Regions from separate parts of the Homo sapiens genome. Here region 1 is linked to region 2. A link means that fine-mapping ties the variant in region 2 to the expression of a gene that starts in the linked region. Tissue or cell type: lymphoblastoid cells. Region 2 holds a variant in brackets; the other region holds the start of a gene. All regions are shown on one strand. Distances are from middle to middle.

The links. PIP is the estimated chance that this variant, and not a neighbour inherited with it, causes the effect.
Region 1: it holds the start of LINC01963, and the variant in region 2 is fine-mapped to the expression of LINC01963 in lymphoblastoid cells (GEUVADIS, PIP 0.95).

Annotation. Positions count from the first base shown.
Region 1 is chr2:216,215,851-216,218,350 of GRCh38, reverse strand. It overlaps LINC01963 (long intergenic non-protein coding RNA 1963), which reads right to left and starts at 1,462. Exons shown (of 1, transcript NR_037701.1): 1 at 1-1,462.
Region 2 is chr2:216,142,307-216,144,806 of GRCh38, reverse strand. All of the region lies in intron 13 of XRCC5 (X-ray repair cross complementing 5), which reads right to left. Among named protein-coding and RNA genes, the nearest start is that of XRCC5, 34 kb to the right of the region's middle. RefSeq lists enhancers at 1,969-2,078, 2,249-2,368. The variant A/T (reference allele first, on the strand shown) is at 1,231.

The DNA of each region.
Region 1 (2,500 bases), 74 kb before region 2:
TCCACATAGGGCTGGGGGTATCCACTCATAAAAAGCAGGGCAGGACATTTTAAAGCCAGACAGGGGCTGTGTAGAGAAGGAAGAAAAATAGAATTGCAGGGACTGATAATGGAAGTATTTACTGTACACTTACTATACACCAAACATTTTATGTGGTTCATGCTCATTTAATCCTGACAGCCCTGAAAGTTAGGTTAACATAAACCCTATTTGACAGGTGCAGAAACTGAGACTGAGAATAGTCAAGCAACTTGGCTGAGGTCACAAAGCCAGGATATAGTGGCAGGTTTTGAAAGAGGCAGTTTGATTCCAGGCTCGGCTCTGATAATATTAAGCGGGCATTAAAAAGCAGGCTTCTGGGAGATGGAAAAGGAGTGGTGGAATCATCAAATGGCATGGATGTTGTACATAACTGAAGCCCTGGATTACAGAATTAAAATTCCATGTCTGTACTCCTCCCTCCCGCTCCAGCTCCACAGTTGGCGTGGGCCAGCCCAAGGCTACTGGTGGTGGGAGGAATAGCTTCATGTCCTCAAAGCACTCACCTAAATTCTGGTGTAGGGAGAGCTTAAAGTCTGTGGAAGAGACCCAGCATGCCTTTCCAAGTAGGTCCTGGGTTAGAAAGATCTGGGAGGCCTGTGTGTTAAAAGAGATGGCAGGAAATGATTCAGCTCTATATCTGTAAAATCTCTGACAATGACAGGATGTGAGGAATGACAGGAGGATCAGGAGGGCTGGGCGGGGGTGACTGAAATGTACTGACCCTGGCTGCAAACTAAAAATAAAATCCTAAGTCCCCTCCACCAACTGAATAGAAACGCTCTTGGCAAAGAGGACCCCAGAAAAACCTTAGAAACTGAGTTCCCAGCCATGACAGGACAAGAGGTCAGACACACCTCATTATACTCCCCTCCCTTTTATGGTTTAGACACAACCAACCAGCATTAATGTCAAAATAGAGGTCATAAGACTGACCAAACACACTCTTTGTGGCAACAAGATACCAAATTACAAACAGGACCTAAGGCCATGCCAAACAAGGGTTAAGTCATGCAGCCCTACACTTAAAAGAATAAACTATGTTCTAACTGCCACAAGTTTTCCTTTTCTCTAGCAGCTAAATAAGCACTGGCCTCTAAATAAACAATACTAAAACACTTGCAGCTCCACCAGATGCTGACTAACTGAACTCCACCAGCCATAACTACAGCTTTGATTGGACAAGAGTGATTTCGGTAATTTTCTCCTGGTAAGGAGCCCACCGACCATGACTGGTTCTAGCGGGTTTACAGAGATTGCATACTTGAGTGCCTTCATGTCCTGAATAGACCTTTTGATGTATAGGGCCTGATTGCAATATTTAAATATTAAGTCTCCACCCCAAGGTGAACATGTGTCATATGTAAGATGCATGTTTAATATGCATGCATCAGGACCACTTTCATTAATATTCATAGCTCCTCCTGTAACCTGTTGAATATGTGTTAAGCCAACCCATTCAGCATAAAAGCATAAAACTCCTACCCCAACCCCTCCTCCTTGGAGGTGCCTGTCTCTGGGCTTCTGCTGGAGGAGGCTGTGCTTCCTGGCCTGCAGGATGGCCACCTGGCAGGCTGTCACCCTTAAGAAATAGTGTCTCCATTTTTCTAAATTTGTATCTTATGATTTTTTTTTTAAAGTTAACGTATCTGGCAAAGATGGGATTCTGAAGCAGCCCCTGAATTCCTTTTCCTGTGTCACCCAGGACACCAGGTACAGCCAAGGTCCCTTTGAAAAAGTCCAGTTGTTCCTGACTATGCTGGGAAAGGATCTGGGTAAGTGCTATCAAAATCCAAGATCTCCCACTTTTAGGTTGCAGACTTGATTTCTTCTTTTAGGCCTCCTCCATCTGTGGAACTCCGGAGGAGACCCTCCTGCTGGCCTTGGGTTTGGGAGGGCATTCCTAGTTCTTCTCAGTCCTTTCTGTTCTCCTCCCTGGACCCCGGAGGGAACATCTCTCCTAGCCTTGGGTTTGGAGGAGGCCTTCCTGATTCCCTCCATCCAAGGGCCCTGGAGAAAATGCATTTGTGGGCTCCGGGCTTATGGAGAGGCATTCAGGTTGGATTCAACTGGTTCATAAGGTTTGTGGGGATGCTCACACTAAGGGCACTGGAAGAGATATCTTCATAAAGTCAGTGCAATAGGTAACTTACCCACTAGGGGCAGGAACTCCTGTAGAAGTTCAAAGGCATGCCAGGTTTTCCAGCACTTCAGCTAGCTGCATATTGTGGCCTGTTCTTGTGCACATTTTAAAACTGAACGGGCAAATTACAGCAAGGAAAATTCAGAGCTCAAATGCCCAACCTGCAACTATACAATTAAAATGTAGAGTTTTCTAAAGCTATCTCTTTTTTGTTTTCGGCCTGCTTTGAATTTGCTGTTATTAAGCTACTGCTGTTAAGATAAAACTCATTGTTTATGATACTACTAATTCAAGGCTACTTGGAGCTTTCTTTACAGT
Region 2 (2,500 bases):
TCTTACTCACTTGTCTTTCTGCCTCAATGAGGAGGACTCTCAAATCTGTGTTTAGACCTGACTTGTCTTCTAGGCTCTGCAACCCTGTTTGTAACTTCCCAATGAGTGTCTGTACCAGGATATCCAATAGATTTTCTCAAATTTAACACTTGTGAAAATAAATGAATTATCTTTTCCACCTGCTCATTCTGTATTCCTTATCATATTGAATGGTGACATCATCTTTTCAGTCACCCAAGCTAGGATCCTGTTATCTTCAAGTCCTCTTTATTTTCCATCAATCACTCAAGTTCTATCTATACCTTCTAAATGCCTTAAGAATTGATTCTCGTCTCCACTCTCTCCATCACTGCTTTAACTCTTAAGCCTTCAAGTGGGCCACTGAAAATTCTTTAATTACCCACTGCTGTAAAATCCAAATGACTGAGTATGGCATACAAGGTATTCACAACCTACTTACTACTTACCTTCTCTGTCACGTTTTCCATCATTTCCCCATACAGAACTTATTCTGCAGCCAAAGGGATCCACATCCTGGCTCTTCATATTTTCATGCTTTTCCATGTTATTTATTTTGCATGGCATGCCCTCCTTACCACATGCACCGCCTTTGTTCTTTTAGAACTCTGTCCAAATGCTAATTCCTCAGCAAAGCCTTCCCTAAGTCACCCACTTGCAAAAATCTTTTTCTTCTTATTCTCATGGTGTTTTCCCACCACTGTTTTAACAACTGGTTTTTTCTCTCTCTACTTTTCTCATTCTTCTAGAGGGGTCCATAAAAGAAGTAAGCTTGGCCGGGTGCAGTGGCTCACGCCTGCAATCCCAGCACTTTGGGGAGGCCGAGGCGGGCGGATCACAAGGTCAGGAGATCGAGACTATCCTGGCTAACACAGCGAAACCCCGTCTCTACTAAAAATACAAAAAAAAAAAAAATTAGCCGGGCGTGGTGGCGGGCATCTGTAGTCCCAGCTACTCGGGAGGCTGAGGCAGGAGAATGGTGTGAACCAGGAGACAGAGCTCACAGTGAGCCAAGATCACGCCACTGCACTCCAGCCTGGGTGACAGAGTGAGACTCCGTCTCAAAATAAAAATAAAAAAAAAAAAAGCAGCTTATAGTATCTTTCGCACGTGGTTCATTGTTAGTACTCAATAAATAAGTTTTTTTTAAGTTTATGTATCCTAGTGAAGATACTTCTTTATATAGATAAGCCACATTAAAAACTCTCCCCC[A/T]CAAAACAAACTAATAAAAATCAAAGCCCGTGCTTGCAGCAGCTTTGGAATATAAAAATGCCTGCATTTATGGCTTGTATCTGTTTGTTATTCCAATAAGCATTTATTAAAGATAAATACAACCTACTGTAGATAAGTGTGCAAAATAGTATTAATAGAAGTTTCTCTTTTTCTCCACAGTGAACCATTTTGGTAAGCTTTGAACTGGTCTGCTCCTACCTTTCCTACAAATGGCACAAGGCTTTAGGTCTTCAAGTACATTTGCCAAAAAAACACCAAAGGATTTTTATATCTGTAATTTATACTTCATTACACTTAGCATGCTAGAGTACAGATGGTCCCTGGTTTATGATGGTTCAATTTACAATTTTTCCACTTTACAACAGTGTGAAAGCGATACTCATTCAGTAGAACTCAGTAGGACACTTACAATGCTGGGCAGTGATATCAAGCTGCAGCTCCCAAGGGTAGACAACCTTTACAGTGCATGATATTGTCAGATGATTCTGCCCAACTGTAGGCTAATGTGAAGTGTTTTGAGCACATTTAAAGTAGGTGAGGCTAAGCTATGATGATTGGTAGGTTAGGTGTAGTAAATGCATTTTCAACTTATATTCTCAACTTAGATGGGTTTATAGGCGTGTATCCCCATCATAAACTGAGGGGCATGAGTATTCAGAGTCAAGTCTTCACATGTTAAGCTTCACATCTCTAATTTTAGAACAAAAGATTTTTTTCACTACTTAAAAGAATTACAAGCATCAAAAAAACAGGCAGTTTCTTTCAAGTAGAGGATCCCTCAAATCACAAGCCCCAATATGGACTTAAGTTAGTTACAGATGTTTCATGAAGTGAGTCATAAGGGAGAATCTGTGGTCTCTGCAGCACATGCCCTGTTACCCCCAACCTGCAGAAAAGGGCCCTCTACTCCTCTGTGAGCAACAGCTTGCCTTAAAAAGCTGCTTATATAATTTTTTTTTCAGTTTTGTGGGGGTCAGAGAAGCCTATGTCCTGCTGTCATCAACTGAATCCAGGACTGGAATATTCCTTTCTCCTTCAACCTTGGTCTAGCCCTCCCCTTCCTCAGCATAAGTCAGCTCTCTTGTCAACTTCCCCAATTTACCTTAATCCAATCTCTGCCTTCCAATTCCTTTGGACTCAGATTCAGAAGATTTTTTATATTTTCTGTATTTTAATTATTCTTTAATAATTTCACAATATAACCTTTTTATCTGACCCCTATGCTCCCTTTAATTATGAAATTTTTGAG